Homo sapiens: one gene and its partners. The protein of the gene in region 2 interacts with the protein of the main gene of each other region in a pairwise test. Each region holds a gene or a part of one and is shown on either strand. Other genes may lie near its edges.

Region 1 (8,065 bases), on a different chromosome or scaffold from region 2:
CTTTATTTTCCTCCCATGGTATTCAGTGGTGTGGAGACTACAAGAGCTGAGAATGCTAACCAACCCTGTTTTCATTGCCCTTATATGCCTCACATTTTTTAGGTGGTGAAAAAAAATGCACATGATCTTTGAGGTCAGCTCTCAGCATCACTCTTTACTAGCAGTACCCTTTGGCAAGTCACCACCACTCTGAGCTTCCATTTCCTCAGGGGCAAATGAAGATGATACCACCTTTCCCATAGGCTGTTATAAGGGTTAGAAATAATTATATAAAGTGCCTAGTATAGTATCTGGCACATAATATGACCTTAGTAAATCATAATGTTTTGTTATTCAAAGCTTTTTTGTGGCCTTGCTCTAATTTCTCAATATAAAATTTAGCAAGTCATATAATATTGTTATTTGAAACTTGCCACATAACATACAAGAGTGAATTTTACCAGGAGACTCTAGATAAGCCCATTCTTTGCCCATGAGTAGTAATAATCACCACAAATAATATTTTTAAATTATTATCAATTTTTTTTTTTTTTGAGACAGAGTCTTGCTTGGTCACCCAGGCTGGAGTGCAGTGGCGCAATCTCAGCTCACTGCAACCTCCGCCTCCCAGGCTCAAGCAATTCTCCTGCCTCAGCCTCCCGAGTAGCTGGGATTACAGGTGCCCACCACCACGCCCAGCTAATTTTTGTATTTTTAGTAGAGATGGGGTTTCACCATGTTGGTCAGGCTGGTCTCGAACTCCTGACCTCAAGTGATCCACCTGCCTTGGCCTCCCACAGTGCTGGGATTACAGGTGTGAGCTACCATGCCCAGCCAAATTATTAAAATTTTGAGGCAGGGTCTCACTCTGTCATCCATGCTGGAATGCAGTGGTGCAATTTAGCTCACTGCAACCTTGAACCCCTAGGCTCAAGTGATCCTCTCGCCTCAGCCTCCCAAGTAGTTGGGACTACAGGCATGTGCCACTACACTTAGCTAATTTTTAAATATTTTGAAGAGATGAGGTCTCCCTATGTTGCCCAGGCTGGTCTTGAACTCCTGGGCTCAAGCGATCCTCCCACTTCAGCCTCCCAAAGTGCTGGGATTACAGGTGTGAGCCACTGCACCTGGCTGACAAATAATATTTTTAAAGAATTCACAATGTGAGAAACACTGTTAAGTACTTTACATGTACTAAATCAATTAAACTTCACTCATATCACAACTCTGTGAGGGAGTTACATTATCCCCATTTTACAGATGAGGAAACCAAGGTTCAGAGGTTAAGTAATTTGCCCATCACACAGCTCTGATCCTGGAGCCTGCATTCTTCATAACTAATCTGTAAAATGTAGGCTGTAGTCAGCATAGTCCAAAGTTTGATGGATCTTGGAAGCAGAAGTGCAAGCAATATCAATAACATATGCAATTTTGCCTTTACCTCAGTAAACAACTCTGGTCCCTTATCCCTTCCAAACAGCAAAAGGGACAAGTTGGGGCTGAACTCTGTCTCATTTCCAGGCTCATGAGGGATTGCAAATGGATAAAGAAGAGTAAAGGCAGACAAGGAGTAAAAGCAGAAAAATATATTTTTTAAAGACCCGAGATAATTCACAAGTAGATAAGCAGGCCCCTGGACATTTAAAAGAGAACTAACTGTATGCTAGGCATAGCTCAGGCAGTCTCTTCCATTTCACCTAGGAAAAGTTAATATCAATTGTATTACAAGTTGGCAAAGCAGCTGATTAAGTACCTAAAATTAATTTAAAGGCCTGGTTTCATCATCTGTTAAAGTCCCATATGTTTAAGTGTGTTGACACTAATCATAATCCTTTTAAAAACTAAAATTTCCATTATTAATGAGATCCAGTGGTTCTAAAACTTTATTGCAGGTTGAGTAACTATATTCCTAAACATATCACTATGAAATTTGGAAATATAAGGGATAAGATGAGCTCCCAAAACCTTCTGGAAAGAAAAAAATGAGATTCAGATTGGCACAAAACTTTTCATTTAAAACAATGGAGAATAGAAGCTACTGGAATAAGGGTTTCAAAAATTCTGAGAGAAAGTGAGTTTGAAATTAAAACTCTGTACTGAACAAAACTATCAACTTAGCATGAGGATCAAAGTAATGTTTATTTCTTAGACACCCTTTATCAGGAGATTACCTAAGGAATATATTCCAGTAAACAAAGATGAAAGCAGGAGTTGTGGGGTTCAATAACTGGAAGAACAAAAGGGTTCCATGAAAGAAAGCCTAGGGTGGCCACAAAGCAGCAGACTTGGATACTTAGAACAGGAGGGCAACAGACTTCCAAGAATATTGTTGTTAAGAATGAAAAGAAGGGTGGGCACAGCTGCTCACACCTGTAATCCCAGCACTTTTGGAGGCTGAGGCAGGAGGATCACTTGAGCCCAGGAGCTCTAGATTAGCCTGGCCAACATGGCAAGACCCTGTCTCTACAAAAAATTTTTTTAAAGTTAGCCTGGCATGGTGACATGGACCTGTGGTCCCAGCTACTCGGGAGGCTGAGGCTGGAGGATCACTTGAGCCCAGGAGGACAAGGCTGCAGTGAGCCATGTTCATGCACACCACTGCATTCCAGCCTGGGCGACAAAGTGAGACTCTGTCTCAAAAACATAAAAGAATGAAAAGAATTCCAAGCAATAGAGAACACGAGTAAAACTGCTAAAAGACATAGGAATATGGGCAAAGAAAAGATATATATCTGCTTCCCATAAGAAAAGAGAAACCCAAACAGAAAAGCCTAGAAAAACAAACAAAAAAAACTCTTCAAAAAGTCCTAGACTTTGATAATTTTGATCTGATGCAGTCCTAAGCCTATTGTTATCTAGGAAAATATTGCTTTCTTACTGATAAATCCTAAATTTCCAACTGCCTTTAAGATATATTTATAAAGAGAAATACCAAATAATACCAAAATCTACATCAATATTACTTTTTTTTTTTTTTTTGAGATGGAGTCTTGCTTTTTTTGAGACTGGAATGCAGTGGTGCGATCTCGGCTCATTGCAATCTCCGCCTCCTGGATTCAAGTGATTTCCCCTGCCTCAGCCTCCCGAGTAGCTGGGATTACAGGCATGTGCCACTATGTCCTGCTAATTTTTGTATTTTTAGTAGGGACGGGGTTTCACCATGTTGGCCAGGCTGGTCTCAAACTCCTGACCTCAGGTGATCCACCCGCCTCAGCCTACCAAAGTGCTGGGATTACAAGCATGAGTCACTGCGCCTGGCAATATTACATTTTTTTAAAACCTAAATTTATAATCCTCAAATCCATCACTATAAAACCTGGCTTAAGATATCTTATATATAAAATGGTGGATTAAATGAATGCTTCATTTACTCAGGACACATTAGAAATACACCTGCTGGACAATATACACACCTGCTAGACAATCCCAAGCAGATAGGAAACAAAAAATTTTTTTAATGTTTCTAAACAAATGAAATACACCTGCACTTACACTCCCTCTTCTTTTCAAACCTCCATAGAAGGTCTGAATACAGTTACAGGAATTAAACAGACATTATAAAAAAAAAAAAAAAGTTCTGCGGAAACAGCACTAACTTACCCAAAACAATTCTAAAGTTCTCACCATCCATGTGTAATACCCAAGTATTGGTGGTTTTTGATCTGTCCTCCATATACTTCTTGAGACTTTTCCCATTAATTTCCAGAGTATATTCATAAGCAAAACCACTGATAGCGTCTATATTTATGGTCGCTTTTGTCTTTGCAGCTCCAACATAGAATGTTTCTTTGCCCACTAATTTGAACATCCACTCTTTTCTTATCTCTTCCTACATAATAAAACAGAAAAATATGAAACAAATGGAAGAAAAATTGATATCTAATTTTAGAAATAACGTAAAGTGAACAAAGGCAATGCCATTTAGATATAATTTCATTGCCGGGAGTGGTGGCTCATGCCTGTAATCCCAGCGCTTTGGGAGGCTGAGGCGGGCGGATCATGAGGTCAGGAGTTTGAGACCAGCCTGGCCAACAGTGAAACCCCGTCTCTACTAAAAATACAAAAAATCAGCAGGGCGTAATGGCAGGTGCCTGTAATCCCAGCTACTTGAGAGGCTGAGGCAGGAGAATAGCTTAAACACAGAAGGTGGAGGTTGTGGTGAGCTGAGACTGCGCCACTGCACTCCAGCCTGGGTGACACAGCGAGACTCCGTCTCAAAAAAAAGAAAAAAAAAAGATGTAATTTTATTAATTTATGATGCCAAGGTTTTAGAAAATAAAAGCATTTTAAGTTTAAATATTACACGCTATATTCCATGAATTCTATAACTATGTTTGCTTTACACAGCAAAATGATACAGATCAAAAACATGACTACAAGAAAAAAAAGCCCTGAATTCACATATGAAGATGCTACTTTAACAAAATCAAGTTTCTCTATATATCATATTTTACAAAGTAACATATTTTCTTCCTACCTTTCCATCTACATATACTACTCGTTTGCCTGATGTAGTCCCATGTTCAAATTCGATCTTGTGGACTCCGTCACTTAAAGCAACATCCCAAACAGCTACGAGATCTGTCATTTTTTCTAGGCTGTAAGGAGGGCTAAAGGAATAAAATAAAGCAATTATAGTAGGCCAAAATACTAATTAAATAACCAATTAATCCTTCCAAGATGAAAATATTAGATTAAAACCTCTAAAATGTCAAAATATTAAAGTGACAGTACCTAAGAAATTCTACTCACAGTACATGTAACTATTTTCTCCCTCTTATTCACTCTTCCTTTAAGATACAACTACTATATATGGGTACATAGTCCGATTACTTCTAAAAAAAAGCCACCTTAATATTAATAGGATTAAGAATGCATCAGTTTATCCTGGTCAGTATTCTAGGTTAGGCTACAGTATAGTGCATGGAAAGGTCAGTAAAAAGTCTTTATTCTTCTCCCACCAGCTCCCATGTAAAAACCATGGTAATTAATTTTATTTCTCTTTTTCAGGTCTAATCACTCTAAAACAAGAACTCTCCAAACCTCCCATACTTAAACTCGCACTAGGGATTTGTTTTAACAAAAAGGTTCTAATTTATTATACTAAGACAGAAAAAAGTCATGGAAGAAATGCCCTATAATAAAGATAAAAATAATTTTTAAATGTTATGAAAAATATTCTTGGCATTATTACAGGAAATCTTATTTTAAAAAAATAAAGGACTTTGGGCTGGGTGCAGGGGCTCATGCCTGTAATCCTAGCACTTTGGGAGACTGAGGTGGGCAGATTACTTGAGCCCAGGAGTTCCAGACCAGCCTGGACAACATGGTGAAACCCTGTCTCTACAAACATATTAGTCACACGTGATGGCGCATGCCTGGAGTCCCAGCTACTTGGGATGCTGAGGTAAGAGAGCCATCTTAGCCCAGGAGGTTGAGGCTGCAGTGAGCCATGATTGCACCACCACGTTCCAGCCCGGGTGAAAGAGTGAGACTGTCTCAAAAATAAGAAATAAATAAAGGATTTTGGTTTGTCAGAGATTTCTGGCATATACTTCAACATATATTTTTGATGTTAATATATCCTATGTGAATGACATAATACATAATATCTAATTAATATTTTGATATTGGTGTATCTTTTTAGCTTTGACAGAAGTATCATTTATTACAGTAATAATAATCATAGCTAACAGCTATTAAGTGATAACTATGTATCAGTCATTGTTCTAAGAGCTTTAAATATATTAACTCATAGAATCACCATGAGATGGCTACTATTAGTATCCTTATTTTACAGATGAGGCTTAGAGAGGCTAAGGGTTTACCTAAGGTCACAATGACATTAAGTGGCAGAGGTAGGATTTAAACCTAGGATTCTGGCTCCAAAGCCTGTTCTCTTAACTACATCTTCCTCTTTGTTCGCCCTAATCTCCTCTGTACGCTCTAAACTGAAGATGGTAAATGGATTTTATATCATTTTGAAGTGGTTGCCAAGAACTCTGTGCTGACAGAAATGAGAAGACCTCACATCAAGGCTCTACTGAAATGGATGCCATGTTTCTAGTGGCTACCTCCACGCCAGGTATTTACTACTCCTGCTTTAAATCACACAAAAGCAGAACCATGTATTCTGCAATTTTACAAAATGTATTCTTAACAGAGTATCTTGGATAAATCACTCTTTTGAATGATAACAATCTTGAAAATGTCAAAGGCTAGTTTACTGCAATATAAGACATTTACCTTTCATCATCTTCAAAGATAGGACTGTCATCTCCAGATGCCATGGTTGGCAAAAACAGTCTTTAATCCAATTAGCAGCCAGGAAAGAAAAAAGCAGAATTGCAGCAAAGAAAGATTGAAAGCAACAATGATGACATCTACAAAGGGTTTTTCTAATTTTGCAATCCATTTATTAAATTACATGGAGTTTCAGATGAAACAGCTTCTACATAAAATAGAATTGCAATCTTTAATTCTCAGAGAAAGATGTTACATCATGCAAATCAGTCAGTCATATTTTTCCCTGTTATGGATTTATAATTTCTTAAAGGTATACTTTATCAAAACTAAAGAACAAACTCTCCTTTGTTGCAAGTGTTATAGCATATCAGAGCTGCAAGAGACCTAAGAGATCCTCTGGGTCCTATGCTTTTCAAGTTGAAGCGTAAGAAGCCCCAAGGCTATGAGTCAGGGAATACATCAAACTCCAGGATAAACACAATGTATCTTCTGGGAGCATCAATGTTAAAGTGGCAACTAATTTAAAATGTAATCTTTATTTTAGAAGGCTACACTATGGTGGAACATAACTTTCAAAATCTGTTTAGATAACTTCAAAGAACTAATGAGTTTGCAAGAAGCAGACAGGGATATGCTGGTCTGCTCTCAAAGAGTGAACTTAATTTATCCCCTTACTTAAGCCCATTTAATTTACTAGTGCCAATGATGAATCCACAAAAGTTATGTGCCTTGCTCATGTAACTGGCAGGATCCAACCCAGAACTAGAGCCCAGTACTGTACTATGCAATGAACTAAACAGTAACTGGGCTGCAGTGTTAATTAAGCTGTACTAAAATCAGAAGTGCACATAAATTCACATGCATAGGAAACCCTCACATTTGAAGATTTGGGATTAACAGTTTCACTCCTGCCAAAGTATCCTAAATTCAACTATTTTTTGCTTCCAAGATCTATCCTAGTTTAGCCCTTTCCTTAATTAGTGCCTGTTTCCTACAGATGCTCAAGAATGCTCTCTCCTGGTTAAAAATGGGAGACTGCTAACCCTTTCTGTCTGGAAACAGCCAGAAGTCACAAATTATTAAAAAGTTTTTTGTTTGTTTTTGAGACAAAGCCTCACTCTGTCCCCCAAGCTGGAGTGCAGTGGCATGATCTTGGCTCACTGCAACTTCTGCCTCCTGGGTTCAGGCAATTCTCATGTCTCAGCCTCTTGAGTAGCTGGGACTACAACTGCATGCCACCACATCCGGCTAATTTTTTGTATTTTTAGTAGAGATGGGGTTTTGCCATGTTGGTCAGGCTGGTCTCGAACTCCTGGTCTCAAGTGATCCACCTGCCTCGGCCTCCCAAAGTGCTGGGATTACAGGCATGAGCCACCACATACCCAGCCAAAAAGATATTAAAGAAGAAATTAGCACTCATAAAAGCAATCCAACGGGCCAGAAAAGCCAAGGATTTTAGAATAAAAACTAGATAAATATTTGTACCTAAAATAAATCTCTCTTTTATAAAATTAGCACCACACAAATTTGTGAACTTTTCTACTCTTAAGGATTATCCCCTATGAAACCAGAGGGTATCCTACAACAATAAAAACAAAAAGAATACATAGCAATATAATAAGCCAGCCAGGCATGGTGGCATGCACCTGTAGTCCCAGCTACTGGGGGAGGCTAAGGTGGGAGGATCGCTTGAGCCTAGGAGTTAGAAGCTGCAGTGAGTGGCTGCAGTGATCATGCCACCGCACTCCAGCCTGGATGACAGAGTGAGACCCTGTCTCAAAACAGGTATCTATATATATACTATATATAATATATAGTTACTATATACACTATATATACT
Region 2 (7,210 bases):
TAGAGACGGGGTTTCTCCACGTTGGTCAGGGCGGTTTTGAACTCCCAACCTCAGGTGATCCGCCTGCCTTGGCCTCCCAAAGTGTTGGGATTACAGGCATGAGCCACTGCGCCCGGTGGCTTTAATGTTACTTCTGAGCAAGTGTGATGTGATTTTGCGTGTACTAAACCTCCACCACCTGTATATAAGCAGTGGGCTAAAATACTGTCCTGGGCCCGACTGATAGAACCTCTCTAAAGGGCCGCTGCTGGGCTCTAGGCCTGTCTATAGTACTCAGTAAGACTTCTAAGTAAAGTGAACTTTAATTCTTTAAAAGCTTGATATTTCTTCTTTAGTCGACAGTCTTTTCCACTTAAGTGTGCACAGCCTGTGTGTCCACATGCAGAGCCTGTCCTAACTCCCAGCCAGGATGCTTCCTCATCAGTCAGAGGTGGGATGGACCTCAGGATGGTCCTGGTCTAGGTGGTTCCATACCCGTCACAGCCCATAAGGAGAAAGACAGACTTCTTGGGTCAGAGCCAGCCCAGAGGTTCAGGAAACCCATACAGCTCCAGGCACTGACTCTGGGAGGCAGCTGGGGGGATAGGGTAGGGCCTCCTTAAGTGCACTGCACTTTACAGCTTACCAATAAATTATGTGAAATTGGTATCCTCATCTTCCATGTGGGAAAACTGAGTCCCAGAGAGGGTGGTCATTTTTCTAAAGTCACACAGTGATGGAGCCTGGATTTGAGCTGAGGTCTGTGTGGTTCCCGAGACCAGGCTCTTGCCACTGCCCCATGAGCTGCCTGCTGCCTGCTCCCAAGACTACCACCACCTCTCCTCCAGGTAAAGACTGACAGCCTTCCCTGGCTGGTAAGTTTTTGGACAGGTTTGTGGTGTGGCACTTGCCAGCATGGGATATGGGACCCCAGGTAAGTCTTGGCTTCTCTCTGAACCTCAATTTTCCTCCTCTGTAAAATGAGCATAATACCATTTACCCAGCCGGGCTGCTTTGTGGATTAGCTATGCTCATGTGTGTGCACTGCCTGGGACAGAGCTGGGTGGGCCTGTGTGTTTGTCAAAATGAATGGAACTGGCTACTGACATCTGTAACTTTAATTTAATACAAATTGATCATAACTCATAAAATGGGCAACATTTTAAATAAAAATACTGCTGGGGTGGCCCAGATTCTGGTAGTTGAAGGGTTGGGGTAGGGCTGACAATTCCTTTTGCCCAAGGGAGGCCCGGGTGGCGGGGGCAGCCATTTTAAGAACCCCCTGTGTTTAGCTCTTCCGGCTACTTTGGGATGGTGTGTTGTGTCAGAGACCCCAAGTGCAGAATCTAGGCCCCAGGACTAGAAAGAAAAGTCAAGGCCGGGGAGACATTTAGGCTCAGTCTTGCAGCCCACTCCTCCAGTTCCCACCTCTGGGCAGGGATAGAGCCAAGGGGCAGGACAACCCTAGATGTGGACTCCACCCTCTCCCGAGTTCTTCACGATTGGATGCTGTGGCAGAAAAACGCAGGTGGGGCTTGCTCCACCCACCCTAACTTCCTTCTAGGGAAATGACATTTCCCAGACTCCCTTGCAGCCAAGGTTCTGGATCTGACTTAAGTTCCCCCAAACAGAATCTCTTGTAAAAATTTAGATTTGGGAACTGAGTGAAGTGGGAGAGGGGCAGGCCTCAGGACATCTATTGGCTGGCACGGACCGTGGCAGAGGGAGCCTAGTTCTGCAGTCAGCAGCTTTCTGGCATAGTGGCTTCCTGCAGATGGGGGCAGCTTTCCTGGTCACAACAGACATGATGAATCTGGCGCTGGGAGTTCCTGGAAATTCAGCAGAGTCTGCTTCTCCAGCTCTTCCAACAATTTTGCAAGCCACCAGGGGCCAGGTAGTAAATCCTTGTCTAATTAAACCAGCTACAAGTGGCTCTTGTTTTCTGCAGCAGGATCCTAACTGAGATAGATGCCAAGTCTGACAAGGGGTCCAGCCAACAGCCCCTCCCAGTGCTTGGGTCCTAATTACAACAACTGCTTCTGGAAGCCTCCTGCACCCTAGCAGGTCACAGAGGCCTGGCTGAAGAGGGTTGGCTGGACTCTTGTTCAGAGCTACTGGGGACCTCGATCATCCAGGGAGGCTTGTCCTGCAGTTGCTTTTAGGCTAATGGGCTCTGCATCAGCTTTGGGTATACCCTCACCCTGTCCCTCGGCCTGTGGGCAGGAAGGTGGTGGCACATGACTATAATGTGTGGACTCAACTACCAGGTGCCTTCCACAGGCCACAGCATCATCACTGACCAGCAGATCAGTGGGAGAAGTAGGAACCATATAGTTCTTGGTGTGGGGGTGGCAGGAGAGGTTGGCTCTCAGGCAACCCTAGGACCAGGTACTACCTGTGACCACTGTGGACTGGGGTCAAGGGTAAATGGCCCATCACTAGCTTGGTCAGGGGTAAGTCTTAGGCCATGGGACATAAGAGGGTGCTGTGTGTCTTTCGGGCTGCCAACTACTGGCCATGCTCTGACACTTCCTGAGGTCAGGGCTGGGCTGGAGGGAGACACTGGAAGGTAGTCCCCTGCCCCTGAGAAGATGGGGATGAGGGTTGGGCAGGGGTTGCCCTGAGGAGAAGCCATGTCACATCCTTGGATCAAAGCTGTATCCCTATCAAGGTCAGAGCTACAGAACATCGATGCTGGAAGAGAGTTTAGGAAGTAGGGAATGCAACCTCCATTTTACAGACTGGAGGCTGGAGGGTAAACAACTGGCCTGAGGTCTCCAGTGGCCACGGTGGGCTGGAGTCCAGGTCTTCTATCTCCTGGGCAGGGCTCTTGCAGGTGGCAGTGGTCCCAGGAGGTTGTGGTCTCCTTCTGCCTGGACTAGATGCGGACGGTGTTGATCCGCAGCGGCTGAACGTTCTTGCCATTGGCGTGGCTCTGGCCAGGGCTGAAGTAAGAGCAGAGCTTGCCAGGGAACTTCTCGCGGAAGGTGTAGAGCCAGGACATGTCATCAGCATTGTAGAAGATGAGCAAGCCTTGGTCATAGTCCAGGAAGACACCCACCTTGTCAAGCTTGTCCCGGACGTTAAGCCGCGTCCAGGGCTCCGTGCAGGCGCTGTACTGGTTGCCATCGTGCATCACGATGCAGTAGAAGCCGCGGCTGGGCTGGATCTGGATGCTGCCCTTGCGGCTTGCGGCTTCGTGTGCCAGCCCGATCACCCACTGGGTCTTCTCCGCCACCACCACCTCCCAGTAGTGGACGCCACTACTGAAGGCTTCAGAACCCAGCACCGACACCTCCACATCGAAGCGCTTTGGCGAGTCCTGCAGTGGCTGTGGGTGCAAGTTGCCGTAAGCCACAATGGTGCAGTCGTCCGACAGGATCAGGCGCTGGTGGGCTGTGCCCGGGTCCAGGGTTAGGGCGGCTGGCACTGTGGGGGTTGGAGGAGGGAGAGAAGATGAGTGGGGAGAAGGCTGTGGACCCACCATGCAGTGCCTTCCTGAGGGCAGAGTTCTGGTTGGTACGCAGGAGGCCTCTGACCTGCTGTGTGACCTTGAATACAAGTCTGCCCTCTCTGGGCCTCATCTTCCTCCTCTGTAGAATGGAAGGGTGGTGGTTAAGGTCCTTCCAGATATTGTCTGCAGGGGAGCAGGGGCTACAGCTGCTTGTTCACTGCCTGATGCCCAGGGCGGAGCACATAGTGGGCACTGGCAAATGTTTGTTGAATTAACCAGAATGAGGCCTAGAATTGGGGAATTTTAGAGCTGGAAGGGAGCTTCCAGATGATCCAGTTGCTACTGCCCCCTAGGGGGAATGGGGAAATTGGTGAGTGTGTTCAGGTTGTCTTAACAACAGCTGGGATCCAGGGATGCTAAAGACCACGAAATGGACAGGACAGTTCTGCAAAGGGAAGTTCTGCCCCACACCTTCCCCGACTCCCAGTGATTTTCACGTGTCCCAGCAGACATTCATGTGGATGAAAAATCTTTTTTATAAGGATAAGAAACTATAACCTAACTCCATTTCATGTATAAACATGAAATTTTTTTTGCAGTTTTAATATATACTGAATATTTCAGAATGCAACCACTGTGTAAATGAAGGGAAGGCTGCATTTGTTTTGTTTGGAACTTCCCTAAGAACTGTTTGCTTTGTTGGAAAATACATCCCTAAGGGCAACACCACTGACTGAGACAACCTACCTGTATAGGCATTTGAGGCAGGATGGTGTTTTACCTATGACGAGAGGACCTGGCTGCTTTGTTAGGTTTTCTAGTGTGATTGTGGGTGAGCATCTACATGTTGACATACAAAATATTTTATTATTAATAATTTCCTTCTATTTTCCTTCATATTAATAGTCAGAGTATGTATCTATGTACATATACACACACAACACTTGAAATTGTGAAAAGGTTACACTTGAAATTATAAAAAGGTTATATTATCTTTGAGATATTACACATGATTTGTTATGAAAAGTAGACAATGGGTCTGAAAAGATTGAAAACCATGAATTCTAGGCCAACTCTTCCATTTGACAGATGAGGAAACTGAGACCCAGAGGGGAGACATGACAAACTTAGGTCATCCTGCAAATATTGGCAGAGCCAGGACTAACCAAGGTCGTCTGCAATCTAGCGCCAGTCCTTTCTCCCAGCCAACCTCTCACTTCTGCCCCCTACCCCACTTAGGTCCAAAGCCTCTGCTTACACGGTTCCCTCCACCTCCTCCTCTCTGCTTGTTGCAACCACCCCCAGAGGCTCAATTCAAAAGGCCCACCCTTTGGGAAGCCTTCCTGGTCACCCAGCAGATGTGCTCGTTCTGTCCTCTGAAATTCCTTTTGCCTCTTCTTTTTCTTATTTATTTATTGGAGACAGAGTCTTGCTTTATCCCCCAGGCGGGAATGCAGTGGCATGATCTTGGCCCACTGCAACCTCCACCTCCCAGGTTCAAGTGATTCTCATGCCTCAGCCTCTCGAGTAGTTGGGATTATAGGCACGCGCCACCACGCCTGGCTAATTTTTTGTATTTTTAGTAGAGACAGGGTTTCGTCATGTTGGCCAGGCTGGTCTTGAACTCCTGGCCTCAAGTGATCTGCCCACCTCGGCCTCCCAAAGTTCTGGGATTACAGGCATGAGCCACTGTGCTGGATTCTTTTAAAAAAAAAAAATACAGACAGGGTCTCACTCTGCCACCCAGGCTGGAGTGCAGTAGTGTCATCATAGCTCATTGGAGCCTCCAACTCCTAGGCTTAAGTGATCCTCCTGCTTCAGCCTCTTGAGTAGCTGAGACTATAGGCATGCATCACTATGCGCAGCTAATTTTTAAATTTTTCATAGAGATGAGGTTTCGCAATGTTGGCCAGGCTGGTCTCGAACTCCTGGCCTCAAGTGATCCTGCTGCCTCAGCCTCTCACAGTGCTGGGATTATAGGTGTGAGCCACTGCACCTGGCCTGAAATTCTTTAGCTTTATTTGTGCCCTGATACTGGCGTGGGGTATTATCTTCTGTGATCACATTTTGCCCTATTTCCCCATTTGCACCAAGAGGGCAAGGACCGTGTACTGTCTAATGGGGCTCTCCCTTGTGTGTCCAGAGCCCAGCCCAGGGCCTGGCTTGTGGCACATTTCCGGAAAGACTCACCAAATTAAACTGGCCATGTTTGTGTTGGGCAGGTGGCATGGGCTGCATCACCTGGCTCTGGGCTGGCCACACCGGCTTAGCAGGTCTGACTAAAAATTTCATGAACCCTTGTTAAGACCTCTGTTTACTCTCTGCTCCCTGAGGGAGCTGATAACTGGCCAGAGGAGAAGGAGGAAACTGGGATTGGCTTTCCTTAGCCTGAATGACCATTTCCAGGCAACAGCAAGACAGAGATGAGGAAAAGTGGGAAGAAGGAATTGCCTCTGTTCCTTGGGGTCTTGGACATCCAGCTCTCTGGCTCTTTCCTTTACTGGCGAAGTGGGGACATGGTTATGCTTGGCTGGAGCATTCTCCCTACTTCAGTTGCCTCTGTTGGCTGCACTGATGTGCAGAAATAAGATGCCTCAATGATGGGGACTGTCCCCAACAGGGAGCTACAGCCAGTCCCTGAACTGTGCCTCTGTTCATATACCCACTGGACCAGTGACCTATATCAAGTTCCTTCCATGATCTTTGCCAGGAGTAAGTTTAGTTTTGCATTTTACCCTCTTTGTTTCTGTCCTTTGGACTTAGAGGGCTGTATGGAAGTAATTAGCCTTGTGAATAGAGGGGTCAATGGAAACACAATCCTCTGTCCAGGGACATAGAAGACGGGGAACCAAGAGAGGACGGCCACTGAGTTGGTGGCTGGATGTTTCACCCTGTGGTCTGACTGGCCACAGGCAGCTTGTCAGAACCAGGGGGCCCCTGCCTGGTGGAATGTGGGCAATTCCCACAGTGGGGTCGGGAGGTGGGAGTGGGAGGGAGCTGTAGGAGGAGTGTGTGGTAGGGGGAAGAGCTAGATTGAGAAGAGGAACCTAATCAGACATAGGTGGGCCACCCCTATGACAGTGGGATGTGGATCACACTCAGGTGTGACAGTGGAGGGGCAGAAGAGCGATGCACAGTGCCCAGGCATGAACAGCAGCAGTTCAGAGTGCTGGGGGAACCTAGGCATGATATCTAAGGCGCCTGGGTGATTTGAGACCAGCAACAGGCAGCAACCGAGGCTCAGGGCAGAAGGACTGGTGCGGGGCGGGGGGTACCCTCAAGCAGGTATAAGGGCTCAGCTTCAGACTTGTAGCTTATGTAGGACAATGTGAGCCACTTGTGGTGCCACTGATGAGTGGGAGGGCACCCTAGGAGGGAGACAAGGGGGCTCTCCGTGGGTCTGAGACCAGTAGACAAAGATAAGCCTGCAGATTGGAGGAAATCCTGACCCAGTGAATGCCAGCCCTGGCGAGCGGACCTGTGCTGCTTGAAGCCCAGGGGACAGGATGGGTACAGGGCCTGCCACTCACTGGGCCGGCCTAGGGGCAGGGCCTGCCACTCTCTTAGGCGGGGGTGTGGCCTGACTCTTAGGAGACTTCTATACCCCAAGGGGTGAGGCTGGGGCAGGGTGTGGCACCCTGGCTGAAGCCACCTCCAAGGCCTTGCACGAATCATTAACACAGGGTCTTGGCTCCTGGGGCTCCCTCCCCGAGGCTAGGGCTAACAGGAGTAACAACCTTCAGACCAGAAAGGGACCTAGAAGGGGCATGGCAACAC
Region 3 (8,708 bases), about 180 Mb from region 2:
AGACTCTGAGGTCTTCAAGGGAAAAGTCTGATGTTTGAGCTTTTTAAATCCTTCATGCCCAGTGTCATTCTTGGAACACAGTAACTGCTTAGAAAATGCTTGATAAAATGAATGAATGTATGAACAGCTGAGCCCTTGCCGCAACAGACGAAAAATAGTATGTAGTTATACCAACGTCCCACTAGAGGGAGCAATGCAAAACTTGATGCCCTCTAACAGCATTTAAGGCTTGTTCTCAACTAAAGTAATACGATAAAATATTTTCCATTTTAAGCTAAACCTAATGTAAATCAATCCCTGATACACCTGATGAAACATATTTATAAATGTTCACTATATTCCAGGTTCTGAGTTTCACAGTGGATACTTCTTATGGGTACAGATGAATGGAAAGGGCAGGGGACATATGTACTCATATTTTGTATTTTTATGTTATGTAGCGTGCATCACAAAGCTTTGCTCTTCGCAGACATAATCTCACTTCTAAAGTCTGCTCCACCTAGAAGCTTATTGCTCCACGTACAATAAATTCTGTGGAATCCGATGACTACACAGCTTCTTAATTTCCTATTGTCCTATATCCGTCATATCCTGTCTTGAACACACACACTTACTGTGGATGAGGTCAGGAAACACAACTCATACAGCCTCATATCTATAATTTCGATCAATTTTGAGTTCAATACTAGTGTTCAATGAATGTGTCTGGCTGACACATGCTCAGCCTGAGACCAGCATCCCCCCACCTGAGTAAATGTGTCCTTGCAGATTCCTTAGCATCCAGCATTGTTCAGTTCAGCATTCAGCACAGCGTATTGTAATTGTCTGTGTACTTACCTACACCCAGACAAGACTGTGAACGCCCTGAGGAGACTAGCATGATCTTATTCTTTCTCCTAGCTTTGGCTGCCAGCACCTAAGTGTTAGGTAAATATTTTTTTAAACAAGTAAGCTAATTCCATAATTTTATAAGGTAGTGAGAGAGTGATTTCTGCCAGCAGTCTCGGGAAGAGGCTGGATTGCTTTGGGTCTGTACACAGACATGCGTGTATACATGTTGTAGAAGAGCTGGTCTTGTATGTAGGAAACTGTCTACTTTAAGGCTACTAGGAAAGCACACACACACACACACACACACACACACAAAATCCTTCCCTAGAATCTTCCCAAATCAGAAGCTGAGGTGTCTGACTTTCACCATTAGAGAGTCATACCTTTGGATATACATGGCTTCCTCTCAACATATCTTGAAACTATGTGACCTTGTTATCAAAAAAAAAATAAATCTCAAACATCCCCAGCATCTGAGATGTATCCTCAAGCAGTGTTCCCCCTAGCTCTGTTGAGAATCTCAGATAGACCCTCTGCTTACTTTCTGTATTTTGCATTATAAAGTGACTGACTTGTGTCTTTAAATATTTATAGCTATATGTCAAGTAAGTACTTTCAAATTATATATATCATGATATTTACAATTAGAATATATCAATTTGTAGAACTCCATGAATTCATAATGATACTAAAAATAAAAACCAAAACTTAATTGGCCACCATTAAATCTAGTGATCAACTTCTTACCTTGAAAATTGGCAAATGAAGGGAAAGAATCAAGCATTTATTCTTTCCTATATAAACTGTACCACTGGGTAACCAAAATTTAATTAAGGTAGAAATTTGTCTTCACAACAAGAATTCAGCAACTAAGTAAAGAATAAATGACAGAATCAGAGTATCACTCCCTGAAATAGAATTATAATGTATTCATGAATTAATGAATTTAGACATTGAGCATCAATGTCTGGTAACATCACAGAAAGAAAGGCAACCAGACATCATATGCCTTCTGATGGAAGTACAAAATACCAAGTATAACAAAGTGTGATCAAACTTCTAGATCCAACAATCAATTCATAAGAAATATAGAGAAGAGCATAACATGTTAAACCAACAAAGTATTTTTAAAAGACAACATTTATGAGACAATCAAAAATGTGAACACTGGCAGTATATATGATTATATTAAACAGTTAACTTCAGTGTTTTTTAGGTTGGATAATGCCATTGAGGCTACATTAAAAAAACCCTTAACTTTTAGAAATGCACACTAAAATATTTACAGATGAAATAATATGATGTTTGGGATTTGCTTCAAAAATAATGCAGAGTAGGGACAGGGCAGTGGTTGGGCATATAAATGAGACAAGATGGCCTTGAGTTGACAGTTGCTGAAGCTGGGCAATAGGTATATGGGAGTTCATTCTCCCATTTTGTCTACTTTTGTATACACTTAAAATGTGCCATATAAAACATTTTTTTCTTTTAAATTATTAACTGATTCCGAAACATTCTGATATTCTTGTCCTAAGGGATAGCTATCCTTCTCCCACTCCTTGAGATCATTATCCTAGAGAATCTTCTGGAAATTGCAAATATCCCAAGGAAAGTAACTTGTTAATTCATTAACAGCTATCTGTAAACTAATACAGAGGGTTATTTCCTGGACTGCCTTTAACACTGAAAATATGGAGTTCCTGTGAGTAGAAGTAAAAGAAAACGTTGGGGGAGGGAAACGGAAGGGCAGAGGGAGGGAAAAAGAAGAACAAATTTTGTCTTCATTACAGTTTTCCTAAGGCCTTCATTTGTTGGCATATACATCATCGTTGTGCAGGTTTTACTAAGAGAACTTTCACGGGGGGGCGGGGCGGGGAGAAATGCTTACATTCTTGGCTCTTAGGTTAAATTTTCACAAAGGATCCCTTTTTATGTTGTCAAAGGATAATATAAATATTTTTAGGACAAAAAGGGCTTCTTTTTCCATGACCCAGTGAGCCAATGATGAGACTGCTTGGGTGGGGCTAGGGTAAATTTTTACCTGAACCTGAGAACCGTCTAGACCTGTACACAAGACCACAAGGGTGTGGAAACCGGGAGAGTAAGAGTCACCTCAAGTGCTTGAGAATATAGCTTTCATAGAAGATCTCTGGAAGAACACCAAGAAAGTGGCTGCCTCTGGGGAGGGAAACTGGGGCACTTGGGATATGTTGGGAGGGGGAAAAAGGATGGCTCTTTATTGCTATAGCCAAGTTATACTGTGGTCAGCACCTTAAAATATATGATGACATCTTGCAAACAGGCTTTTGTTGACCTAAGTGACTGTACCTTTTATCTTGAAATTACATAGAAGACAAATGGCTATTTATGGGTTCCTTGGCTGGCCCAGCTGCTGGGCACCACCCGCTCTGTTTGCATGTGTTCCTCATATTCTCCGGCCCTGTCCTCCCATCCCCACCCCAGCCTCTCCGAATCTAATTAGGAATAGTAGATGGTCACTAGAACTGACAAGAATCGCATTCTAATGGTTTTATTACAACTTCTATGGTGTGACACAGTATCAGGGAAAACCCAAATTTCCCACAGTAGCACTCCAATAGCAGAGCTATTATTTTGCTTCTCATTTCTCTCATTTTGGACGCTCCTGTTTTACCGTAAATATTCAAGTGAATTCTGCGGCTTATGATTTAAGCACTCTGTTTCTATAGAACATGGTAGCATAAGTTACTATTAGGAAAAGGATCTCACCATCTTTATCCTGTGGTCTCAAGCAGCCCTGCACACTTGCAAATCCCTAGAATACTGAGTCTACTTTTATATTTTTGCTTTTTCCTGTTTATTTAGGTGTTATTTAAATACATTAAAATTCACCCATTTTAACTGTACAGTTTAACTTTTCTTATGTATACAAGGTGTAACTACTAGCATGATCAAAATGTAAGATGGTTCCTTTACCTTCAAAAGCTTTTCCATCCCCTTTTGTCCGAGTTCAGTTATGAGACACTGGATTGGGTTTCACAGCCTTTTCTAGCATTGACTGGGGTGATTTCAGTAAAGTCACTTTACCTCTCTAGATGTGTTTCTGCTGTTGTTAAATGGGGAATGCTGGAACAGATTTGTTTGCGGGGACTCTTCCAATACTTTCAGAAAATGCGAGAATAGGGTGAGGGTGGGAATCTCAGACTTGTGGGCCCCATGATTGATATAACACACACAGGCGGCAGACCCTAATGGGTAAAAGCATGTGGTTGCATCAGTTAAGGTTTTTCTCTCTTCTCTTGCTAGCGTGTTATCTTTTCTTTTCTTTTCTTCTTTTTTTTTTTTTTCGAGATGGAGTCTAGCTTTTGTCGCCCAGGCTGGAGTAGGCTGGAGTGCAGTGGAGTGATCTCGGCTCATTGCAACCTCCACCTCCCGGGTTCCAGCGATTCTCCTGCCTCACCTCCTGAGTAGCTGGGATTACAGGCGCCCGCTACCACGCCCGGCTGATTTTTGTACTTTTAGTAGAGACGGGGTTTCACCATGTTTGGCCATGCTGGTCTCGAACTCCTGACCTCAGGTGATCCGCCCATCTCGGCCTCCCAAAGTGTTGAGATTACAGGCGTGAGCCACCGCGCCCGGCCGCTAGCGTGTTATCTTTTCTAAGCATCAGTTTCCTTATCTGCAACACCAGGCTTATTAACAAGACCTATCTGTACACTGTTGTGGTGATGAAGTGAGATGTTCAGGCACCCTTAAATGTTGGTTGATATTTTTATTGCAGTATACTGTAAAGTCACTGCATTCGACTATCTCCGCTACTACACATTTACGCAGACTGATTTCCATAACCAAAACACAAGCACAAAGCTCATGCCCCCGACTCACGCAACCCGGGAAGCCCAGCTGCCCACGTTCTAGGGCTCTGAGAACACTAGTGAACGAACTCCCGTGCTTTCAAAGAGCTGCGGTAGGGGGCAGAACCGGGAACCGGATGTTCTAAGCCTGTCGTACGAGCGCGACGTAAAGCGGATCTGCTTTATGGCACCTTGCTTTCGCCGTAAAGCGCAGTCAGCGAGCCCACGTGCTTGTGTTGACTGGACAACTTCCTGGTGGAAAACCGCGACTCTTGCAAGTGGGCAAACTTGACGTTTTCGCTATGGGCAAACGCGGGAGCCGGAGCCAGAGCCAGCTACTCAACACCCTAACTAAAAAGCAGAAGAAACATCTTCGAGATTTCGGCGAGGAGCATCCCTTCTATGACAGGTCTGAAGGGGCGTGGCAGGGCTCCCCAGTCGCCAGAGATGTATCCTCGAGTTTGGTCCTCTGGTCTCCCAGATAGTGCTGCTCCGGCCTTTTCCCACTATTCCCTGGCTCCCGCTGTGCTCGGCCGGGGAGATTCTGGCGCCATCCCGCCGGGAGATGGAGTGCTTCACGGGCCTTTTTGTTGAGCCTGTAATTTCCTGCTAAGAGGCACGCCCGTTGTGTGGGGGAGGATTTTTTTTTTTTTTTTAAGACGGTGTTTCGCTCTGTCGCCCAGGCTGGAGTGCAATGGCGCGATCTTGGCTCACTGCAACCTCTGTCTCCTCCCGGGTTCAAGCGATGCTCCTGCCTCAGCCTCCCGTGTAGCTGGGATTACAGGCGCCCGCCACCAAGCCCGGCTGATTTTTTGTATTTTTAGTAGAGATGGGGTTTCACCATGTTGGCCAGGCTGGTCTTGAACTCCTGACCTCAGGTGATCCACCCACCTCGGCCTCCCAAAGTGCTGGGATTACAGGCGTGAGCCACCGCGCCCAGCTATGGGGGCGGATTTTTGTGTGGTCAGAGATCTAGGAATTTTTTGTAGACACACATATATATATGTATATATATAATTTTTTTTTTTTAAGACAGAGTCTCGCTTTGTCGCCCAGGCTGGAGTGCAGTGGCGCGATCTCAGCTCACTGCAACCTCCGTCTCCCGGGCTTAAGCGATTCTCCTGCCTCAGCTTCCCGTGTAGCTGGGATTACAGGCGCCCGCCATCACACCCGATCAATTTTTTGTATTTTTAGTTGAGACGGGGTTTCACCATGTTAGCTAGGGTGGTCTCGAACTACTGACCTCGGGTGATCTGCCCGCCTTGGCCTCCCAAAGTGCTGGAATTACAGGCGTGAACCACCGCGCTTGGCCTGTTTTTATAATTATTTTTAACTTACATAAAATGATTGTACATATTTGTGGGATACAGTGTGATATTTTGATAACAATACATGTACCCAATGTGTAATGATCAAATCCGGGTAATTAGCATATTCATCATCTCAAACATCAATTCTTTGCGTTGGGAACATTGAAAATCCGCTCTTCTAGCCATTTGAAAATATACAATAAATTGTTAGTTATAGTCACATCATATGTTGTGTGTGTTTTTAAAGAATTTGTTGGGACATCATTGATCTTTGCAATTACGATAAGGAACTAAGTGTATTAGTAGTTGTGGTTTCTCTAGAAATGTCTAGGTGCAGTTATGATCTCAATGCTCATCCCACTACTTTGGGCTGCTTTGTCATCAGTTAGGGACATTCTTTTTTTCTTTTCTTTTCTTTTTTCTTTTTTTTGAGGCAGGGTCTCACTTCGTTGCCCAGGTTGGAATCCAGTGCTGCAATCCTGGCTCACTGCAGCCACCACCTCCTGGGCTCAAGCGGTCCTCCTGCCTCAGCCTTCCCAGTAGCCGAGACTACAGGTGCACAACACAACTCCGGGCTAATTTTTCTTATTTTTTTGTAGAGACAGGGTCTCCGTATGTTACCCAGGTTGGTCTCAAACTCCTGGGCTCAAGTGATTCTCCCACCTTGGCCTCCTAAAGTGCTGGGATTCCAGATATGAGCCACCGCTCCCAGCTTAGAGGGACATTCTAATTAAGAAATTTGCTAGAAAAACATGAACCCCGAAATCTTTTATTTAGCCAAGTTGTATCCTTCTTTTGGATGAGAGCCTTGTGTGACTCTAGGGTTTGTCATGTGACCTCCTTAAACTTTTCATTTGTCAGTTATTAACCATATTCTTGCCAGCCCTGCCCAAGTGCATGTGTAATTTTTGCATGACTATATCTAAAATGTATTTATAATGTTATATTCTGCCTTTTTCATTTAACATCTCATTTGACCTTTTCCTAATTTCTACATACTAGTAGTTAGAATGTAACATTGCCTGTTTCTTTTTAGGGTTTCCAGAAAGGAAGCAAAGCCACAGATTTGTCAACTGGTAATGCTTTCTACCTTCTTTTTAATAGTTGGTTTTGGGTTGTTCCCACTAAGATTATATCTAATAATAAAGCTTGATTACATTTCTATTCCTTTTGATTTCAGATGCAAGCTATTATTTTGGCAGTATCACTTAATTTTAAATGCAGATGTCTATAAAAATGCCATTGTGATATCTAATACAGAAGCCACAGTTTGAAATTGTCCCAGGAGACTAGCCTATTAGGCCCTGTTACAGAGGCTTATCAGAGGGCTCTTAGTGAATCCTAAGAGGGAATATCTTTTTTGGTTAGCATAAAGGAGTCACAAATACAGTGCAAAATGAACAAAGGGCCTATCATATTACAACAAACTAAAAAAAAAAAAAAAGAAACCTGTTTTCTTTTGTTGTTTTGTAATTATCCTGTTGTTCTATTAAACCTGTGGCCTAATGCCTGGGACATAAATTAAATCTCATAACCTGAAGTTTTATGTTTTAAAAGTGGGGCAGTAGCAGTTTGGAGCATATGAAGAGCTTCTAGAATCATAGCTAGATTAGCAATTTTAAGTAAATTTGAATTTGGGCTTCGTTGAATAGATGTTGGCTTGATGATAGTTTTAGGGTAACAATAAGAACAATATAGTTTTTGTTCTTAAAATTCTCCTTTTCCTTTTAGTCAGAGAGTTCAGATTCTTCAGATTCTGAAAGCGACTCAGAGAGTGAACCACAACAAGTTTCTGGCTACCACAGACTACTTGCTACATTAAAGAATGTTTCTGAGGAAGAAGAGGAAGATGAGGAGGAGGAAGAGGAAGAAGACAGTATTGTAGATGATGCAGAAATGAACGATGAAGATGGTGGTAGCGATGTCAGTGTGGAAGAAGAGATGGCTGCAGAGTCTACTGAAAGTCCAGAGAGTAAGTGTCTTTACTATAGGCTCATCATCTTTGCCAGAACTATAGACAGTTCATCTCATGAGCATGGTACCTTATATACTGTGTGAGTTGGATGAAAGGACATGAATCCAAAATAGGGATTTACCCTTGTTGGGTTTGATTGTATCTTTGAGAATCTGATGGAAACACAGAACCTTCTTAGCACAGCTAGGCAGAAATAACATTTTTGCTTGTAATTTCAGGGACTTCATCAGTACTAGTGAAAGACCTCCTAATACAGAGGAAGGAGAACACAGTTCTGTCTTTGTGACTGTCTGAATTTATTGAAGAGGTTACTGTTCTTCTCTTAGGGAGACCAAGTTTGATGGAAGATAGACATAAATATATATAAAAAATTTCAAACAGTAGATTTGCGATTGCATGGAACAGCTAGATGTAAGGTGTTGAAGAGAGGCAGAGTGGTTGAACACTGCCAGTGTAAATTAGGGAAGGCTTCAGGGACTCTGTGTCACTCAGACTTGAAGGTGACTTTTTTCTTTAACTTCAAAATCACCTTCATTGAGGTATCATTTACATACAGTAAAACGTATCCAATTTAAATATACAGTCTGACAGGTTTTGACAAAGGTATACATCCAAATCAAGATACAGAACATTTCCATTACCTCCAAAAATTTTTCTTATCCTTTTGCAGTCAGTTCCCCACCCTTGGCATCAGGCAGCCACTGACCCGCCTTCTGTCACTGTAGATTAGTTTTGCCTGTTCTAGAAATTCATATAAAT
Region 4 (8,065 bases), on a different chromosome or scaffold from region 2:
TTGCAGTGAGCCCAGATCACCCCACTACACTCTAGCCTGGCCAACAGAGTGAGACTCCATCTCAAAAAAAAAAAAAAAAAAAACCATGAGCGCCAGGTGAGGCCGAACAGCTGACGGCTATAAGCACTGTCCATGCCCTGACAACTTCCAAAGTGTGCCTGCAGCCCAGAATTCTCCCCCCAACTCCAGACTTCTCAGACCTTCTTGACACCTCCACTTGCGTGTCTAGGAGACACTTCGATGTGTCCTGAACTCAACCCCTCCACTAACCTACTGCACCCACAGCCGCCCTCATCTCAGATGATGGCAGCTCTGCCTCCAGCTGCTCTGCTCCCAGCCCTCAGAGTCATCCTCAGCTCCCCTCTCACTCTGCCCAGTCCTCTAGCAAGGTCTGTCAGGTCATCTTTAAAACATACCCAGAATCGTCCAGGTGCGGTGGCTCACACCTGTAATCCCAGCACTTTGGGAGGCCAAGGTGGGCGGATCACGGGGTCAGGAGATCAAGACCATCCTGGCTAACATGATGAAACCTCATCTCTACTAAAAATACAAAAAATTAGCCGGGCGTGGTGGCGGGCGCCTGTAGTCCCAGCTACTTGGGAGGCTGAGGCAGGAGAATGGCGTGAACCCGGGAGGCAGAGCTTGCAGTAAGCGGAGATCGTGCCACTGCACTCCAGCCTGGGTGACAGTGCAAGATTCTGTCTCAAAAAAAAAAAAAAAAAAAAAAAAAAAACATACCCAGAACCTGGCTACTGCCCAGATTTCTGCAGCCCTGCCAGGTCCAGACCCCCACCATCTCCCACCTGGATGGGGACAGTGGCCTCCTGACCTGGCTCCCTGCTCCCACCTTGCCCATACACACCCCAAGGGATCCTCCTAACCCTCATCTTCCCCCATCTCACTGTGAGTGAAAGTCAAAGAAATTTCTGACATAAACCCAGAAGGCCCAGCACCGGGCCACTGAGTGCATGGTCTGCAAGGTAAGCACAGTGAAAGTGTTTCAAAAGCTCCTAGCAATGACATCGGCACAACATCTAAACATGGACACAAAAGGACCCGTCTGGATGGACTAGGAATTCAAGGAATGCTCCCAACCAGACAGAGTTGAGAGGCCCTGCCCCACACCTCCTCCAGGCCCACCTCTGCCACGCTCCACCCCCACATACTGGCCATGCTCCGTCACTCATCGCCACCTCACTGGCTGCCTTTTCTCAAACACCCTGAGCACACTCCCACCTCAGGGCCTTTGCACAGCTGCCCTTCTGCCTGGAAGGCTCTTTCCAACCTCCACAAGGCTCACCCTCACACTCCTTCAATCCTTGATCCATTCATACTGCAAGCCACCCTCTCTTACCTCCCCAAAGACACTCAAGCAAGACTGTTTTTGTTTTGCTGTTTTCCAGAGCGCTCATTACATAACATGCTGAATAATTTATATTGTGTTTTTCTTTCCCATTACCATATAAGCTCCACGAGGGCAAGGGGCTCTGTTCTGTGCTCAGTGCCTGGTGCCCCATGGGAACTCAATAAATACAGAGCAGAGGGCAGGTAGACCAGGCTTCAAAAGGAAAGCCCAGAGCTGTGCCTGCAGGCAGACGTCAGCAGGCCTGGGAAGGTCTGGAATGCTTCCGCCGGAACAGGAGGACCCCCAGACTGAGGGCAGGGGACACAGCTGGTGGAAGCAACTGAGGTCTGCAACGTCAAAGGCTCTGGGATGGCCCTGCAGGGCCTGGCATCTAAAGGGGCTGAGACTCAGGACCAGGGCATCCTTTATGAAGATGGAGGGTAGGTGAGACTGGGAGATAATGACAGCAGGAAATTGGTCAGAAGGCTGGCACTGAATTGAGGCCATGGAACAAGATGGACAATTCAAGAGACTTCCAAGGTCAGATCTACAGATCTATGTGGGAGGTGAGAGAGAGGGAGGGGCACAGGGAGGATGAGATGACATATGGCACATGAAAGAAAGCTCTCCTCAGACATCCTCATGATTATCGCCAGTCACACAAGAGGCCTTCCCGGCTGTGGCTGCTCTCATGTGAAGAGGGCTTCTGAGCAGTCTGCCTCCTCTGCCTCTGTGGGGTCTGCAGTCCCAAATGCACCCCTCACAAACATCTCTCCTGAATCACAGCCTGCATCTCACCTGACAGTTTTCTGAATGGCCGGCATCATTCTGACCTTCCCACTGCTGATTTCCAAGAAGGTGTGCTCCAAACAAATCCACTGGTGTGCATAGATTAAGCACTTACCTTATACTCAACCCTTTGTGAAGCATCAAGAAAGAACAGAGAAGAAACATGGCCAGAATCTTTGCCCTGGACTCCGACAGCCCCCTACCCTCTGACGGGGAGGGAGTGAGATGTGGAGAGGATGCCACACCCAACAGTTAAAGGATGAAATGCAATCCATATAACACTTGTTTGCTCAAAACTCATCTGGGGCATGAGAAATCTTCAAAGAAAAAAATACTCATTTTTATCTTCAACTCCTATCAGGGCTGAAGGACAACATAAATCCACACGGGGTGGATACCTTAAGCAACTTGCCAGGTTGGGGGAACAGGGGGCAGGTGGTGGGAGCGATATCCAAGCAGAGAGAACGGAATGGCACAGGCGAAGGTGCAGAGGCAGGGCCAAAGACAGCCGCAGTGGGGGAAGATGGCCAGCCTGCAGGCCTGCCAGGCTGTATTTAACATGCAAACGTCCCAGGAAAGCCAGTTTGCCAGCGGGAGAGCTAGAGGGCCAGGGTAACACAAAATTGGCCACCAAGGCTCAAAACAGACCTTGTCAGTTACCAAATGGGTAGAACATGGGAAAAACAAAAAGGGAACTCCATGGAGAGTTCCGCGGGACCTGCTGAGAACAGCAGCCTCTGACTATCTGGGGGGGTGAAATGGGCATGTAACTCCAATGCCTCTGGGTGACCCTTTAACGAATGCTTTTATCATTTACATTCTTTACAGTGCAGAGCTGGCCTTCCTTACGTTTTCTAATGTCAGTTTAGAAGAAGCCAAAATCCTGTATAAACTGTTAGGGGAAAACAGGGACATGAAGGAAAATATCCTAGAGTTAAATATAGTTATTACACAAATACCCAAGTCAAACAAGCTGTAATATTAATGAGGCATGAATGAACTGTAACTGTTTCCAGGGCTGAATAAAGGCTGGTCACCTTATCAGGGAAGTCGCACAAAAGCTCTCTGTCGTGCCCCTTCTTGTAAGAAGAGTAGAAGAGAACAGACACCTTTCTTCCCTGTAGCAGAGAACCCACTTGGGACCAATGGTAGACTGAGAGCATTTTCTTGTAGGAAACAGTGAAAATCTGTTTTCAGTTTAACCTGCTACAGTTGTAAGGCTCTGATCAGGATACATTATTAATTAGTAGAAAGAGAAGCCCCATTTTTAGTTACCCATTGAATTAGGTATCTTCAAACACCGTGACCTAGAATTGACAGTACAGCTAACTCTCTGTTTTCCATGGTAACAGGGATTTCAGGAAGAACAGCAGTTAATTGGGAAGCAAAAAAAAAATCCCATTTTATTCAGGGCAAGGCATACATTACTGCATTAAGGATAATGGCTTCCAATGACCATCACTGAGGATCTTATATTTGTCTGGTGTTGTGAGGTTTAAATCACACATTTCCGGTCCAACAAGCCAAGTTGTCTGACCCACCACCATGGGTGGGCCTGATAGGTGGCAGAGCCCCCTCCAGTTTGTCAGGGAATGGGAGCATGGGGAGAGCATGGGCCATCACCCCATGCCTTACCCAAAGAACAGCTCCCCTGCTAAACCTTTGACAGAACTTCTAGCAAGTGACATGTGATCCTGGAAGCGGAGCACGACCAGGCCACAAGCTCCCAGGAGAGAGGAAGAAAGGGCTCCTGGGCCTGCTGGAGGCCAAACCCCCAGGCCCAGAGGAGACAGGGAGAGAGTTGGCTGTACTGGCATGGCAAGCACACCCCCAGCAAGCTGCCCAGCATTTCTAGTAAGGAAAAAAGCAAACCGCCGTCCCACCTCGGGCTGCGCGGTCACAAGTGAGGCAGGGCTGGGACCAGTCGCCATTTGGGCGGGAGGCCAGCCCCAGGTGCGGCAGGAAGGGGTGGCGCTGGCTCAGTGGCTGCAGCTCCTCACTCTGACCCAGCGGGGCCCCTGTGCGGTGCTGGGGGCACAGCGAGGCCTCAGGCGCTGTGGGGCAGGGACACACACACACACACAGAGAGACACGCCATTAGAGGGTGCGCAGCAGCCCCTGCAGGAGGTACGGGCCAAGGCCACTCGGGGTCAACCCCGCAGCCCACTGCGGTGGAAGCTGTGAAAAGCCCACTGACCACATTCTGACCCTGAACATGCAGCTCAAGCGTAAGGTCTGAGGGAACCAAAAACATCACAGCTGGAACTGCAGCAGTATCATTTAGCCCAGCAGGACCTATGGCTACAGGCCCTGGACTCGGTATGAGGAGGAGGGGTGGATCAAACCAGGCTCCTGCATCCCCACTGTTCCAACCCCTGCATCTGCAAAGTTCCACAAATTGTTCATGGAACATGAAGCTGTTTCAGCTCCTTGCTTAGCATCCTCTGGCTTCTTGAGAATAATGACCATGAAAAGCACATAAAGAGAATGGCAGCTCCCCTTGGCCTGCATCAAAGCCACAGCCACAGTCACAGGGACAGAGGAAGTCAAGGCAGGTTGGGACCAACTCAATCCAAAGAGAGCCTCTCTGGGGGTTGGTAAGAGGATCCTTGAGAGAAATAAAACAATTTCACTTCTTAAAGGGCAATCTTCATTTGTTTTGGTGCAATTTAACCCTGCATTGAGGCTTCTGGAGATTAAGGTTAAATTGTTTTCAAGTGGTTTAACCAAGGTCACAACCTTTGCTTAAGCAAAACAGTTCAAACTAAGAAGAAAAATGACAACTACATATGGGACAAGAATATGTTAACCTGCTCCAAGCTCGGTAATAATTCAGAATTCCTAGAAGCAGGAAATCTGACTTTAATATGCAAATCTCTCATTTAACACATTTCTCAAAATGCTAGTGGTGGCGGTACAATGTCAAATCGAAACCTGCAAAAGCAGGAAATGTTAGTAAATGGTCTGGTAACAGAACACTGACTAAGTAAGGGTTGACTGAGGTCTGTCAAACTACAGACAACTTCCTTTAAAAAGAAGTTTTCTGCTATGCTGACATAGTGTTACTAGGGATCTGCACTTTTGTTTTAGCAGCCAGAAGATATAATTTCTACAATCCCCACCTCCATCCTCACCCTGTCCCCCAAAGGCCACTAGGGCCACCTGTCTCTCTGAGTGTGGGGTCCACACTGTGGCTGGAATAGCACTGTGAAAATGGAGAAACACCTGTTGGGGGACCACTTCCAATGAACAGCCAGGATGCCAATGTGACTCACAGAGACCAGCTTCCATCAGGCCCTGAACTCCACTCTGTTCCCTGAAACCTCTTCTGACCATAAGGCAAAGACCCAAATTAATCCAACATGCAAAACCAGAACTCAATGCAGACCCAGCCATGCAACCAGATCACTAGCAACTCTCATTTGCATGTTTGGCAGGGAGGCCTTGTTCACACTAGCAACCTGTACAAGTTTTTTTGCTGAAGTAGAATAATACTGAGCCATTCAAGAGACCTGAAGCTCAGTCAGCAGAAAAACACTTAATATGAGATTAAAGAAACAAGATTATCAAGAAAGAGCATTTGTTTCCTCCTGGCTACCAGAGTCAACTCCCCATTGTATGTGCAGCAGGACAACTCCTTTGCTGCCAGACCCATTCTGACAAGGAAGCAGAAAAGACCTGCCTCTGCCCACCGTCTGCCCAGATGTACAGAATGAGGCCCAGAGCAGCAAAGGGCGTTAGAGATCCCTGAACCAGAGCAGCCAAGGGACTAAAAGTCCCTTTATAACCAAAACTCAATCCAGACCAAGGACAATTTGCCTGGGCCACCAAAAGCTGGGTACTGAGGACAGGTTCGAGCTCTGCAGTGGCCACCACTCCCTAAGCCCAGAGACACCCACCCTGCCTGTCACCCATTGCTGCTGCTCTGGCAAAGGGTGAGAAGCACTTCCATTACTCACAGCCATGGTAGGAGGCCGGGGAGCCCCCGGCCTTGCCATACTCCTGCTCCGAGTGGCTGGTGGAGAGGTTGGGCTGGCTGGAGCCTCGCCCAAAGGTGATCTGGTTGCTGCCCATGCCAGTGGCAACCTGGGCCATGCGCTCTTTGGTTTTGAGAGCCTGGGCCCTCTCAGCCTTCAACCGTTCCTCGTCCTTGAGGAGAGCCACCAGTTGCTTTGACTTCTCACGCACATTGATGCCCTGGTCCTTGCCATCTCGGTCAATGTACTGGAAGTCCTTCAGGGTCTGGATGGCGAAGATGTTCTCCCGGCACTGCTGGGCCACACGTTCGGAGCCTGTCTTGATGAGGTAGTCCAGCAGGGTCAGCGCCTTGTACACATGCCGCCAGTTCTTGCCATGGTCATTCAGCCGCTTCCACACCATGCTCATGATCTCCGAGAAGGCCACCACGTTGTAGGTCAGGTCGGCAATCTCGGTCATCAGAGAACTGGACGGGCCCCACGGGTCATTGGAGGTGGCTTCCCGGACTTTGATTTCTGCCTCTGAGTAATTGTTCACGATGTTTTTCATCTGCCGTCTGATAGACGAAGTCGTCATTTTTATTTTCTTTGTTATAAGTTTAAAGCCCTTCAAACAGAGAAACCTTCCTGTCCTTGGTAAGTGCGCACCCTATGAAGGTTCAGTCTCCGTAATCAAGCTGGAGTAAGATCCCTGAATGGTCATTTCCTCCTTTGGAGCCTCAGATTCGAAAAGCTGGAAGCCATGACCTAGAGAAAGAGAAAACCCATTCCACTGCGACGTAAGCCCCCTGTGAGGGTGGGAGACTGTGGTCCAGCAGCAGGTACTGGGTAAAACTGGGGAGCTGAGTGGACATACCCAGCCTCCTTAGGACGAACCCAAGATAAAATCAATATCACCAGTCAACAATGAATAAAACTTACACTCAAGTTTAAGCCTTTAGGAGAAAAGAAGTAAACATCATGACTATTGCTCTATTTTCAAAACACTTCCACTGGAATGGCTATTTTATGGGTTGTCTTTTCACTGCCTGGCAAAAGCCAGCTGTGGAAGAATCGGAAACACTGGGGGAAGCTGATCTTGGCAGATTTAAAATTACATGTGAGACCAGATATGGTGGCTCACACCTGTAATCCCAGCACTTTGCGAAGCTGAAATGGGAGGATTACTTGAGGCCAGCCTGGTCAAAACAGCAATACCCCCATCTCTATTTTTTTAAAGTTTATTTAAATAAAAAAAAATACACATGAGGACAAGAAAGAGACTAATTTCAGGTCTATCTTAACTCAAAAATGCCTGTCAATACCTTCAAAACTGCTTTGGTCCACTGTGTTTCCGAATGTCCAGAAAATTCTCCTTGACAACCACTTTTCGCCTGACCTTCCCTGTTCAAGAATTTATAAAGATTCCTAACAGCAATTCTAGAAAAAGGATAAAGACCTCCACTTGGCTTTCAGAAGCCTCCAGCATCTGGCCCAAGCTAATACAGCCTTAAAACTAATCTGGTTATAGCCCAGCCCCTCATTTCACAAAGAAAACTGAGACCCCTGGCTATCTATTAACTCGCTCCAACCAAACACATCATCTATCCCCTCTCTTCCTCCAGATAACACTCACTTACCAGGCTACAGTGAGGTCCACGTCTCTGATATGAGGCTCCTGTCCACAAGTTTGGTAACCTTCATCTGCCTCATCACCAGTGAGCACCCAGCACTTAGCACTGTGCCCGACACAGAAATGAACACTGTTAAATAAATGAATGTTACAGATTAAAAACAGAGTCCCTGCCCTCAAGAAGGCCACAGTCTGGCAGGGGATGAAGGTTCCTTACCTATAAAATGGGAAAACTGAGGCCCTAGAAGTCTCCAGGGATTGCCCCAGGTAGATTAGGACAGCTAGGGCCCGGATAGGAAGCAAGGGGCTCCACCCACCATTCTGACCACCTGCTTGGCTGTC

Evidence for each region.
Region 1: the proteins of TRIM62 (region 2) and FAIM interact in binary tests that used the Homo sapiens proteins (3 or more experiments, as listed by UniProt).
Region 3: the proteins of TRIM62 (region 2) and UTP25 interact in binary tests that used the Homo sapiens proteins (3 or more experiments, as listed by UniProt).
Region 4: the proteins of TRIM62 (region 2) and EPN2 interact in binary tests that used the Homo sapiens proteins (3 or more experiments, as listed by UniProt).

The regions. Positions count from the first base shown.
Region 1 is NC_000003.12:138,617,931-138,625,995, reverse strand, and holds part of FAIM (fas apoptotic inhibitory molecule 1), read right to left. Parts: intron 6,286-8,065; coding exon of another isoform or gene 6,270-6,285; coding exon 6,226-6,269; intron 4,590-6,225; coding exon 4,457-4,589; intron 3,809-4,456; coding exon 3,580-3,808; intron 1-3,579. UniProt on the Homo sapiens protein: Plays a role as an inducible effector molecule that mediates Fas resistance produced by surface Ig engagement in B cells.
Region 2 is NC_000001.11:33,144,320-33,151,529, forward strand, and holds the end of TRIM62 (E3 ubiquitin-protein ligase TRIM62), read right to left. Parts: intron 3,409-7,210; coding exon 2,858-3,408; 3' UTR 1,080-2,857; downstream 1-1,079. UniProt on the Homo sapiens protein: E3 ubiquitin ligase that plays a role in antifungal immunity by mediating 'Lys-27'-linked ubiquitination of CARD9 downstream of C-type lectin receptors; leading to CARD9 activation, followed by activation of NF-kappa-B and MAP kinase p38 pathways.
Region 3 is NC_000001.11:209,823,098-209,831,805, forward strand, and holds the start of UTP25 (U3 small nucleolar RNA-associated protein 25 homolog), read left to right. Parts: upstream 1-4,874; 5' UTR 4,875-4,966; coding exon 4,967-5,073; intron 5,074-7,010; coding exon 7,011-7,050; intron 7,051-7,705; coding exon 7,706-7,946; intron 7,947-8,708. UniProt on the Homo sapiens protein: Component of the ribosomal small subunit processome for the biogenesis of ribosomes, functions in pre-ribosomal RNA (pre-rRNA) processing. Essential for embryonic development in part through the regulation of p53 pathway.
Region 4 is NC_000017.11:19,281,743-19,289,807, reverse strand, and holds part of EPN2 (epsin-2), read right to left. Parts: intron 7,854-8,065; 5' UTR 7,731-7,853; intron 6,859-7,730; 5' UTR 6,689-6,858; coding exon 6,094-6,688; intron 4,189-6,093; coding exon 4,018-4,188; intron 1-4,017. UniProt on the Homo sapiens protein: Plays a role in the formation of clathrin-coated invaginations and endocytosis.